Linked DNA regions of Homo sapiens: all the other regions are linked to region 1. The links come from fine-mapping of genetic effects on gene expression. A gene starts in region 1. Each other region holds a variant in brackets. All regions are shown on one strand. Distances are between the middles of the regions. Region 1 holds the start of ADGRL1 (adhesion G protein-coupled receptor L1). Region 2 overlaps ADGRE2 (adhesion G protein-coupled receptor E2). Region 3 has its middle 20 kb from the start of ADGRL1.

The links. PIP is the estimated chance that this variant, and not a neighbour inherited with it, causes the effect. A credible set is the group of variants that fine-mapping cannot tell apart.
Region 2: its variant is the best candidate, but not a certain one, in a credible set for the expression of ADGRL1 in B cells (Fairfax 2012, PIP 0.57).
Region 3: its variant is the best candidate, but not a certain one, in a credible set for the expression of ADGRL1 in whole blood (INTERVAL, PIP 0.70).

Annotation. Positions count from the first base shown.
Region 1 is chr19:14,204,433-14,208,779 of GRCh38, forward strand. It overlaps ADGRL1 (adhesion G protein-coupled receptor L1), which reads right to left and starts at 1,737. Exons shown (of 23, transcript NM_014921.5): 1 at 1,553-1,737. RefSeq lists silencers at 2,351-2,410, 2,431-2,530.
Region 2 is chr19:14,736,071-14,740,070 of GRCh38, forward strand. It overlaps ADGRE2 (adhesion G protein-coupled receptor E2), which reads right to left. Exons shown (of 21, transcript NM_013447.4): 21 at 1-174. The coding sequence ends at 166. Among named protein-coding and RNA genes, the nearest start is that of ADGRE2, 40 kb to the right of the region's middle. The variant T/C (reference allele first, on the strand shown) is at 1,871.
Region 3 is chr19:14,224,352-14,228,698 of GRCh38, forward strand. No RefSeq gene overlaps it. Among named protein-coding and RNA genes, the nearest start is that of ADGRL1, 20 kb to the left of the region's middle. The variant GT/G (reference allele first, on the strand shown) is at 2,421.

The sequences.
Region 1 (4,347 bases):
GGGCACGGAGCTTTCAGGCTGTGAGCCAGGGTGAAGGAGTGGGGTCTGGGGTCAGGTTAGACTCATGCCAGCCCTTGGGGTGTTGGAGAGAGAAGCAGAAACCAATGGTCTGTCCCCAAACAGCATGGAGGTCAACGGCCCGGAATAGACATTCACCCTCAGGTGTGCCCCACTGGATCCGACCTCCTCTAAGCAGTGACTCCCTACCAGGATAAGGGAGCCGGGCAAGCAGAGAGGGGAAGAGAGAAAGACAGAGAGAGATAGAGAAAGACAGAGAGAGTGAGAGAGAGAGAGAGAGAGAGAGAGAGACAGACAGAGAGAGAGAGAGCGCGCGAGCCAGCCATCTTGGCAGCCATTTTGAACCCCTCCCCCTCCTGCCCCCAGGCACACATGTTGGGAAGTGGGATGTGGGAAGACAGACCCCAGCTCTGAGTCCGGTGGAAGCCAGGCGGAAGGGGGGGCCCTGCCTGGAACTGGGATACAGAAACACCCACGCAGCTGGCATGGCTGGGGGTGGATGGGGGTTGGAACAGGAAGAAAGGGTCCAGGCAGGTACAGTGAGGTGTTGGCCAGGGATGGGGCAGTGTGAGGACCCGGACTGGAAGTGTAGAGACAGGGGTGTGTGTAGCCAGCGGCTGTCTTCAGATGGGGGCCAGGGGTGCACTGGAGAGATACCTGGGAGGGCATTTTCTGGACACGGCTGGAGCAAACACAGCATCCCCCCACCCCACCACTTCAGGCCTGGACTCGGGTCCCAGGACCGTCAGATGGGAGGATGACAACCAAACCCTCGCAGCTCAATCCAATGCGCACCTGGGGTGGGGGTGGGGAGCTGTCCTCAAAGCACGAATAATCCGAGTGGATCAAACCTGCCGGCCTCCCGTGCTTTAACCCGGCACCACGGAGAGAAGGTGCTGCCCGGCTGCACCCCCTCCTCCTGACAGCGGCGCCCCCCGGACTGCGGCCGGCTGGACACCCAGACGGACCCCTCCCCATCCCCCGCGCCACTGCCTCCCAGAGAAAAACAACCCCCTCGCCCAGCATCCTGTGGTGCCAGCCCCCGACACGGCTCCTCTGGGGCGCGGGGCCGGCGCGCGGCGCGCACACGCACCCCCTCCGCTCACACCCAGACACCTACACAAACAGGGCGCCAAGCACCCGCGCGCACACGCACCGGGGACACGCAGGCACCGCCGCGCCGCTTCCCCACAAAGGCTGGCGCGCGCGCGGGCACACGCAGCCACGCGCGGGCACACTCGCGGTCCCCTCCCCCCGCCAGGCACCCTGCGGTAGCCCGTCCGCACCCCCGCGCCCCGGGCGCTCCGTGGGGGCCGCCCCTCCCAGGCCCCTCGCCAGTGGGGGTGAGGTGCGGGCTGCCCCCGACGCCCCTCCCGCTCAGGTGCGGTGCCCCGCGCGGCTCCCGTGTCCCCTCCCCCCTCGCGGCCAGGACAGGCCCCGGCCTCCCATCCTTCCCGCCTCCCCTCTTCCACGCGCCCCGCACACCTGGCCCAGGTGCGGCTTCGCCCCTCGCCCTGGGCCCGCAGACACTCACCTGTCCAGCGCCTCTCTGGGGTCGGCCCAGCGTGTCTCTCCTGCGGCTCGGCGAACCCGGGCCCCCCGCCCGGCACATCTCCCGGAGCCGGGGCTGGGGGGAAGCGGGTAGGAGGTGGCGGGACGAGGGCGGCCTCCGTGTCCCTTCCTTCCCCTGGCCCAGCACCGCCGCCGACCAAAAATTAGGAAAAAAAAAAAAAAAGAAAAGAAAAGAAAAAAAAGAGGCGGATTACACGGATCCAAAGGCGGCCCCCTCGCGGCGGCGGAGGCTCGGGACTGGGGGCGATCGGGTCTGCGCCCCTCCCGGGGAGGGAGGCGGTGGGGCGGGGGCGGCGTCAGAGCGCCGGGGGCTGGGGCGAGGCGGAGCGCCCCGAGGCGGCGCCGGCAGCGGCCCGCATCTCCCCCGCAGCTCCGCGGCCCCGACGGAGGCGGCACGTGTGCGCCCAGGCGACTTCCCAGCCCCCTCCGACGCCGGCGGTGGACGAGGGGTTAACGGGGCAGCCGGGGCGCCCCTGCAGGCCCCCGCCGCCCGGCGGCGCCGCTCCGGGGCCCGCGCGGCCCCATCAGCCGGGGCCTCCTCGGCAGACGGCGGGGCGGGGGCACCGCAGCGCCGACAGCTCCCGCGCCGACGGCTCGGGCTCCCCGCAGTGGCCGCGGGGAGCTCGGGTTGGGGGCGGGCGGCGCGGAGCTGGCGGAGGGGGGCGGCGCGGCTGGAGGCGGGTGCCGCGGCGTCGCGCCCCCGGTGCGGCCGGAGGGGGGGCGCCGGGCCGGGCCCGTGGGCACCGCAGGACGCGCGGACCGAGCCGGCGCCGGGCACCAGCAATGACAAGCCGCCTGCTCGCCCCGCTCCCCGGCGCACCCGCTCCGGGAGGGGGGCGGTGGGCGCGCGCAAAACCCGGCCCGGAGTCGCCGCCCGGGACTGGCCGCCGCAACCCGCTTGAGCGCCCCAGGAGCCGGCCCGAAAACCCGGGCTGGACTTTCCTTCCTTTCGCCTCCTCTCGCCTCCTCCCTGGAAAAGCAGGGAGAGGGAAAGCGACGTGCTGGAGCCCCGCGTTGGAGCGGGGAGTGGGGGAAGGGAGACAGGCGTAAGGAAGACCCGGAGCGGATTTTCCAGTGAAGTATAAGGAAAGGCGCCGAGCCCGGGGAAGGAGGGCGCAAATGGGGAGATCTGGAAGGGTTGTGCAAAACCCGAGTTGGATTAGATAAAGATGGGAGGAACGGTGTTGGAGCGGGGGGTTGGGGGGTAGATGCGACATGGCCAAATGCACCCGGGGCACGCAAATTTCGGGCCGGATTCTTTCTCGGGAGACGGAGTAATGCGTCAGGCCTAACGCAGTGGAAACAAGCAAGACCCGGCCCGGAACTCCCGGGACCTGGGTTCGCATGGTGGGGGGTTCTGGAAGGGGGATGCTTAGTGGCTGAGGCGACTTGGGCTGCCCTCATCTTCCTGGCAGCGACGTGCAAGGGGGACGGGCAAAAGGAGGACTGGACTCGGGTACGAAGGGATTTGGCGCGCTGGCTGCACCGGAGCGGACAGGTAAAAGCGGTTTCTGGATCCAGGGGCGCTGCGAAGGGAATGCGATGAGGCCGCTACCCTGGGAGACCAGACCTACAATAAAAGGCGAGGGAGGCACGCAAAGCCAGGACTGGAGCGCGGGACGGGATGAGACCCTCAGCAGAAGATCCTGGGCCACCGGGACAGGGGCTTGGAGCTGACCGGGCAGCAGGGGCGGAGGGAAGCGTTAGGGGGAGGTTTGTACCTGTAAACGCCTCAAAGTCTTGCTTTTGGGGAGGGGGTGCGAGGGGAAAAATTGAATTTTATGTTCTCTAAAAGAGTAAAAACCCGGCATGGATTTTCAACACCTAACAACTCCATTGCAGCTGGTGGACTCTAAGAAGTAGGGCAAGAAGCAGGCTTGGGTTCCCAGGCATCAGACCAAGTGAGGCGAGGGGCAGGTTTCGGGTTGAGGCTGCAGAGGGAGCCCCCGCACCCCCTCTCTGGGGTGGGGAAGGCTGTTGGACCCGGCTTGGCTCTCTGGAGAGCGAAAGTTATGACTGCCAAGACCTATAGCTGGGGCTATAAAACTGGGCCCCAAGCCAAAAATAGGCACTTCGGCAGAACAGGCAACTTTGTGCAGGGTGGGGGCTGGAGGGAAATGGAAGTGGGAAGAATCCTGGAGTGGAGGGAACAGGGGGGAGGGGGGGAGTCCCTGAAGCGGGGCTGCTGGCTCCATTTTATGAAAGATGGGAAGACTGATGGCTGGGGAGGGCTTGGAATCCTCAGGGAAGGGAATCCATTCAAGTGAGGCCCAAATGTTAAAGCAGACAGCTCAGAGTTCAAAGTTGGGCTGCATCTTAGCAGCAGGGCAGACAAACCCTGATCTGAGTTTTAGAGGAGGGGGACGGGCTGAGGATGGGGATGGGGGAAACCCCCATTCCCTATATGTCCAGGGAAGAGAGTGCATTGCTAACCATGCGCTTTGCAGAATGAATGAGGAAAGGGAAAAGGGTTCCTGAGTAGGAGTGGTAAATCCACAAAACTTGAGGCATATCTGGATGGGAAAAATGAGTATCTAAGAAAGCCTGAATTGAATATCTGCACGGGAATTAACTTGGCCTCTAAGAATCCCTTCCTAGAAGCACGTCCCTGTGGCTAAACTGGAGGAAGTGCAGGGACACCAGACTTCCAGGCTGCCCGGGTGACCACGCACCACTGCTGTGGCAGCCTGTCACCCTCCACCGCCTTCTACGGACAGCTGTCTCTTCACGACGGGGAAGGGATTCTTGAAAGCCAGA
Region 2 (4,000 bases), 530 kb after region 1:
AGGAATTGAATGCCTAGCACGCCTTCCATAACATCCTTCATATTGCTGACATGGTGAATTTCTTGAAACACACAGAACAAAGTCTTTTCTTTCCCCTCTAGATGGCTCAAAGATTGTTCAGATTTTCCACGGGCAAAGAGGGAAGATCTTATTCAGAAGATTTTTCTAGTTAACCTGAAATATATATATATGTATGTATTTTGTTGTTGAGACAGAGTTTCACTCTTGTTGCCTGGGCTGGAGTGCAATGGCGCAGCCTCGACTCACTGTAACCCCCGCCTCCCAGGTTCAAGCAATTCTCCTGTCTCAGCCTCCAGAGTAGCCAGGATTAGAGGCATGTGCCACCACACCCGGCTAATTTTGTATTTTTAGTAGAGACAGGGTTTCACCACGTAGGCCAGGCTGGCCTTGAACTCCTGACCTCAGGTGATCTGCCTGCCTCAGCCTCCCAAAGTGCTGGGATTACAGGTGTGAGCCACTGAGCTGGCCTGAAATATATATATATTTCTAAATATATTTAGAAACATAGATATATTTAGAAGTATATAGATATTTAGAAATATATAGATATTTAGAAATACATAGATATTTCTAAATATATATATTTAGAAATATATAGATATTTAGAAATATATAGATATTTAGAAATATATAGATATTTAGAAATATAGATATTTAGAAATATATAGATATTTAGAAATATAGATATTTAGAAGTATAGATATTTAGAAATATATAGATATTTAGAAATATATAGATATTTAATATCTATATATTTAGAAATATATAGATATTTAATATCTATATATTTAGAAATATATATATTTAATATCTATATATTTAGAAATATATATATATTTAGAAATATATATGACTATAGAAAGAAAACCTATAATTTCCATTTTGAAAAAGAAATAAGAAATTAGTTAAATAAGTAGATTATAGCTGCTTGTGCCACAAAAATAAGTAACTATGTGAGATGATAGATATATTAATTTGCTTCACATATAGATAACCATTTTATTATCTATATGTATCCCATAACTTCATGGGTTAAACCTCAATTGTGTGTATACACAATAAAATTTATTAAAAAAAAGAAATTTAAGAAGTCTTTTTTTTTTTTTTCTTTTTAGAGACAGGGCCTTGCTCTGTCACCCAGTCTGGAGTGCAGTGGCACCATCTCTGCTCACTGCAACCTCCAACTCCCAGGTTCAAGTGATCCTCCTGCCTCAGCCTCCCGAGTAGCTGCAACTACAGGCATGTGCCACCACTCCTGTCTCATTTTTTAATTTTAATTTTTTGTAGAGATGGGGTCTCACTGTATAGCCCAAGCTGCTGTTGAACTTCTGGGCTCAAGTGATCCTCCCATCTCAACCTCCCAAAAATGCTGGAATTCTAGGTGTGAGCCACCATGCCTGGCCAAGAAGTCTTTAATCATAAGGTTTTCTTACCATATGTATTTGTCAGGGCAACATCAAAAGGCCATATCAGCTTTCATTTTGCTCCATCCTGTTCTTTCTCAGAAGCCCCATCTTTGTATGCCTCCTAAACCCCAAGTTACCAAAGTTAAGAGGAAGTAAATGTGTTGCAGTAAAGTATCTATCTGGGCCAGGTGTGGTGACTCACACCTGTAATCCCAGCACTTTGGGAGGCCGAGGCGGGCAGATCACTTGAGGTCAGGAGTTTGAGACCAGCCTGGCCAACATGGTGAAACCCTGTCTCTACTAGAATACAGTAGTAATAATAATAATCAATTAGCTGGGCTTGGTGGCAGGCGCCTGTAGTCCCAGCTACTCGGGAGGCTGAGGCAGGAGAATCGCTTGAATCTGGGAGGTGGGGGTCACAGTGAGCCAAGATGGTGCCACTG[T/C]ACTCCAGTCTGGGCGACAGAGTAAAACTCCCTCTCAAAAAAAAAAAAAAAAGTTGTATCTGAAGTAGGGTGATTATAGTTAACATTAATCTACCATACATTTCAAACTAGCTAGAAGAGAATAATTTGAATGTTATTAGTACAAAGAAAAGATAAGTATTTAAGGTGATAGATATCTTAGTTACCCTGATTTGCTTATATGAGTGTAGCAAATGATCACATGTACCTAGAAACTATGTACGTCTATTATGGATCAATTAAAAAACATTTAAAAAGATCTATCTGTTTCCAAATGTATGTCTTGACCTCGGAGCTCCAGGGTTTGTGTAATGTTGCTTTAAATGTGGAGTCATAAAAGAAGCCAGGTGGGAAATTAATGAAATGTTAGAAGTGTTATCTATTGTTAACCACATAAGATTTAAAGGAAAAAGCACTGAATTCCTTTTTTTTCCCCTGAGACAGGGGTCTTGCTTTGTTGCCCAGGCTGGAGTGCAGTGATGGGATCATAGCTCACTGGATACTTGACCTCCTGGGCTCAAGCAATACTCCAATCTTAGCCTCCCGGTAGCTGGGACTACAGGCATGCACCACCATGCCTGGCTAATTTTTATACTTTTTGTAGAAACGGAATTTTGCCATGTTACCCAGGCTGGTCTTGAAGTCCTGAGCTAAAGTGATCTGCCTGCCTCGGCCTCCCAAAGTGCTGGGATTACAAGCGTGAGCCACTGCGCCCAGCCTGAATTCCTTTTTTCCATATCTTTTCCATCTCCAATATGAGTTATTTATTCCTAGGTTCATAGGAAACTCAGTGTAATTTCTATGGTTCGAGATGGTCAGCTTCACTTGCTTATATAGTTAGTATTTAATGCATAATTAATATGTGCTCAAGAGATTAATAAATATTGTGCTTCAGGAGATTATTCAGTAGTGATCACAAGACATTTTGTTTTTATGAAACAAGACTGCAGAAAGCCATGGCAGAGACTGCAGAATAAGAGCAAGACACACATTTTCTTTTCTTTTCTTTTCTTTTTTTTTTTTTTTTTGAGACATAGTCTCACTCTGTCACCCAGGCTGGAGTGCAGTGGCTCGATCTTGGCTTTACTGCAACCTCTGCCTCCTGGGTTCGAGTGATTCTTGTGCCTCAGCCTCCCAAGTAGCTGGAATTACAAGCATCCACCACCATGCCTGGCTAGTTTTTGTGTTTTTAGTAGAGGTGGGGTCTTGCCATGTTGGCCAGGCTGGTCTCGAACTCCTGACCTCAAGTGCTCTGCCCGCCTTGGCCTCCCAAAGTGTTGGGATTACAGGTGTGAGCCAGCGTGTCCGGCCAAGGCACATACATTTTCAAACACCAGAGATAACAAGTTTTAGGAAACAGTAGAAGATAAAATGACATTAAGTAATGCAATGGATTTTCTTGGTCCTTTGTCAGTAGCTGGTAGAAATATCTGATCACACACCTTAAATTTCAGAAGCCTTTGTTGGCTATCTGATGACCTAACTCTAATTCCCTACACAAAAGTACATGTTTCCTTTCTTCAATGTGTATATATCATTTCTAGTGGCTGTGTGGGGTGAAAGGGTGATAAATATTTATGCAAATATCTACAATATGAGGCAGGTTTTGATGATTCTACAATAGGTAAACCCAAACTATATGGGTATGAGAGACAGAATAATGACCCCCCAAAGAGGTTCACATCCCTAATCCCCAGAACCTGTAAATGCTACCTGACATGGAGAAAGAGACTTTGTAGATACGGTTATGAAAAGGATCTTGAGATGGGAAAATTGCCCTGGATTGTCTTGGTGAACCCAATGTAATCATCAAGGTCTTTATAAAGTATGAAGGCTGTAGGAGAGTCAAAGACAGGGATGGACTGGGCGCAGTGGCTCACGTCTGTAATCCCAGCACTTTGGGAGGCCAAGGCGGGCAGATGGCTTGAGGCCAGGAGTTCAAGACTAGCCTGGCCAACATGGTGAAACCCTGTCTCTACTAAAAATACAAAAATTAGCCAGGCGTGGTGGCGGGTGCCTGTAATCCTAGCTACTCGGGAGGCTGAGGCACGAGAATCACTTGAACCCTGGAGGCAGAGTTTGCAGTGAGCCCAGATGGTGTCACTGCACTCC
Region 3 (4,347 bases), 20 kb after region 1:
TTTATTTATTTATTTATTTATCCAATGTTTGTTTTAAGTTCAAGGGGGCACATGTCCAAGTTTCTTATTTGGGTAAATTGTGTTTTGCAGGAGTTTGGTATACAGATAATCTTGTCACCCAGGTAATCACCATAACACCCAACAGGTAGTTTTTCAATCCTGACCCTCCTTTTACCTTCCACCCTCAAATAGACACCAGTGTCTGTTGTTCCCATCTTTTTTTTTTTTTTTTTTGAGATGGAGTCTTGCTCCGTTGCCCAGGGTAGAGTGCACTGGCATAATTTCGGCTGACTGCAACCTCTGCCTTCCGGGTTCAAGAGATTCTCTTGCCTCACCCTCCCTAGTAGCTGAGATTATAGGTGTGTGCCAGCACGCCTGGCTAGTTTTTGTATTTTTAGTGGAAATGGGGTTTCACCATGTTGGCCAGGCTGGTCTCGAACTCCTGACCTCAAGTGATCCACCTGCCTCAGCCTCCCAAAGTGCTGGGATTACAGGCGTGAGCCGCTGTGCCTGGCCTGTTGTTCTCACCTTTGTGTCCATGTGTACTCAGTGTTTAACTACCACTTATAAGTGAAAACGTGTGGTATTTGGTTTTCTGTTCCTGCATTAGTTGACTTAGGAGAATGGCCTCCAGCTCCATCCATATTGCTGCAAAGGATATAATCTCATTCTTTTTTTTTTTTTTTTTTTTTTTGAGACAATCTCATTCTGTCACCCAGGCTGAAGTGCAGTGTCGTGACCTCGGCTCACTGCAACCTCCGCCTCCCAGGTTCAAGCAATTCTCCTGCCTCAGCCCCTCAAGTAGCTGGGACTACAGGCACCTGCCACCATACCCTGCTAATTTTTGTATTTTTTTGTAGAGACGGGGTTTTGCCATGTTAACCAGGCTGGTCTCGAACTCCTGGCCTCAAGTGATCCACCCACCTTGGCCTCCGAAAATGCTGGGATTACAGCCATGAGCCACCATGCCCGGCCTCATTCTTTTTTAATGGCTGCATAGTATTCCATGGTGCATATGTACCACATTTTCTTTATCCAATCCTCCATTGACGGGCACCTAGGCTGATTCCAAGTCTTTGCTATTGTGAATAGTGCTGCAATGAACATACATGTGCATGTGTTTTTATAGTAGAACAATTTATATTCCTTTGAGTATATACCCAGTAATGGGATTGCTGGGTCAAATAAAATAGAAGAATTTTAAATTGTTTGAGAAATCTCCAAACTGTCACACTCAATTATAAGGGCAATAATCTCACCCATGAGAATGGGGCCCTCCTGGCCTAATCACTTCCCAAGAACCCCAACTCTTCCAACATATGGATTTGGAAGGGACACAGACATTCAAACCATAGCAGTGACCTTATTTGGACAAAGCGTTTTTGCAGATGTAATTAAGTTAAGGATTTTGCAATGAGATCATCCTGGATTAGGGTGGCCCAAAATCCAATGATAAATGACCTTAGAAGAGAAGGGGGTTAGACACAGAGAAGAAGGCCAAGTGAAGACAGGCAGGGCTTTCAGCAGTACAGACACAAGCAAGGAACCATCAGAGGCTGGAAGAAAAAAGGACGAATCCTCACCTAGTGCCTTCGGAGGGATTGCAGCCCTGCACCACCCTGATTGCAACCTCTGGCCTCCGGAATGGTGAAATAATAAATTCTTGTTGTTTCCAGCCACCTAGTTTATGGTAATGTATTTCAGCAGCCCCAGGAAATGAACACAGGCCCTGATATCCAATTCCACAAGCACTTGATGAAGCGTCAGGAAGGGCCCGTGGTACAGTGGAGGGGGAGGGAAACTCGAAAATGGGGAGTGTTGAGAAACGGATGGACAGTGAGGTGGAGGACCAGAGAGGCTTTTTTTTCTTTTCTTCTTTTTTTTTTTTTTAGACAGGACCTCTCTTCGTCACCCAGGCTAGAATGCAGTGGCGCAGTCGACCTCCTGGGTTCAAGCGATCCTCCTGCCTCAGCCTCCCGAGTAGCTGGGACTACAGGCACATGCTATCATGCATGGCTAATTATTTATTTATTTTTTGTAGAGATGGGGTGTCACTGTGTTGCCCAGGCTAGTCTTGAGCTCCTGGCTTCAAGCCATCCTCCTGTCTTGGCCTCCCAAAGTGCTGAGATTACAGGCTTGAGCCACCATGCCCAGACTGGGGAACCTCTTTATAGCAGAGGTGATGACCCAGAACTGAGCTGGAGCATGCCACAAACCTACAGGGACAGCCAGTAGGTAATATAAATACGCCAAGCAGCCAAGATAAAAAGACTGACTGCACCAGCAACGGAACAGCTTCAGTGTCAGGGAGACAGTAAGGGGGGGTGGGACTATGGCAAATAATGATAAGAATGAGTAACATTTATCAGCACTTGCTAAGCCCGTTCCTTATATAGCATGAACTCATTTAATTCAGTTGT[GT/G]TTTTTTTTTTTTTTTGAGACAAGTCTTGCTGTGTCACCCAGGTTGGAGTGCAGTGGCACAATCTCGGTTCACTGCAACCTCCGTCTCCCAGGTTCAAGCAATTCTCCTGCCTCAGCTTCCCGAGTAGCTGGGATTACAAGCACGTGCCACCACACCTGGCTAATTTTTGCATTTTTAGTAGAGACAAGGTTTTGCCATGTTGGCCAGGCTGGTCTCGAACTCCTGACCTCAGGTGATCTGCCCATCTAGGCCTCCCAAAGTGCTGGGATTACAGGCATGAGCCACCACGCCCAGACAAGATTTCATCTTTAGAGGAAGTCAGGCATCCAGATTTTTATGCAAAAATCACCTGAGGTCTGGCACTGGTGGCTCAGGCCTGTAATCCCAGCACTTTGGGAGGCTGAGGGGGGCGAATCACTTGAGTTCAAGAGCTCAAGGCCGCCTGACCAACATGGTGAAACCCTGCCTCTACTAAAAATAGAAAAAAACTAGCTGGGCCTGGTGGCCTTTGCCTGTAATCCCAGCTACTTGGGAGGCTGAGGCAGGAGAATCGCTTGAACCTAGGAGGCAGAGGTTGCAGTGAGCAGAGATCACACCACTGCACTACAGCCTGGGCGACACAGCGAGACGCCATCTCAAAAACAAAAACAACAACAACAACAATGAAAAAGCAGCCTGTATTTAAAAGCTAGCAAGTCATGGGCCGGGCGCGGTGGCTCACGCCTGTAATCCCAGCACTTTGGGAGGCCGAGGTGGGCAGATCACAAGGTCAGAAGATCGAGACCATCCTGGCTAACACGGTGAAACCCCGTCTCTACTAAAAATACAAAAAATTAGCCGGGCGTGGTGGGGGGCGCCTGTAGTCCCAGCTACTCGGGAGGCTGAGGCAGGAGAATGGCGTGAACCCGCAAGGCAGAGCTTGCAGTGAGCCAAGATCGCGCCACTGCACTCCAGCCTGGGTGACAGAGTGGGACTCCATCTCAAAAATAAATAAATAAATAAATAAATAAATAAATAAATAAATAAATAAATAAAAGCTAGCAAGTCATTACAAAATGTTTTTAAAGCCTGCATGGACCAAGCCAATTACATCTGTGGGCTGGATTCAGCTCTGGGGCGGACACAGAGGGAGGGGCGGGGCATTTAGTGAAGGCGATGCAAAGCATCATGGGTGAGTTGGGGACCACATGGGCCAGGGGGTTTGACTAGGTGGTGCCTAGGCGGGTGCCAGCATGTTTGTCGGGGCTGGCGCGGTGGAGGGGGCGTGGTTTAAACTGAACAGGTGTTTTGGGTCTAGGTTGGAAAGGACCTTTGGAGCCACGATAACATTTTTCAATTTTGAAGAAGTCAGTGATAGCTTTTAAACAGCTGAATGACTCAGTCATGCCTGTCTGTCCCCATCCCCCAATCCCAACACCCAGAAAGCTGTGAATCAGGCTTTCTTTGGGGGTGGAGGGACAGTAGATCCATCCATGAAGGAAACAAACTAAACAGCCCCCGTCTTCCAGCGCGCTCACAGCCGCCGGGGAGAGGGGGAAGGTGTCCTTAGTAAGGTTAGGATAGGATGGCAGCCGTGATGGTGGGACCGTGGCAGAGGGTTAGTGGTTGTCTGCAGATATGGGAGCCACTGCTATGTGTTCAATGCACTAAGGATGCAACGACGAACAGGACAGACATGGCCCTGCCTTCAAGGAAAAAGACTGTGAAGGAGGAAGGAAATAAGGAGAGACGGTAATTCCAGGGGGTGATGAGAAAATGTAAAAATTAAAATAGCAGGATGGGGGATGGGGCTCAGATCGGCAGCCTACAGGCCCAGGAGACAGAGCGGGTGGGCAGGAGGATGGAGGATGGGGAGCGGGGGTCCTCAGTGGCTCACAAGCCACCGCTTGCTCCCTGGGACCCAGCAGCCTGGCTGGGCCTCTGTC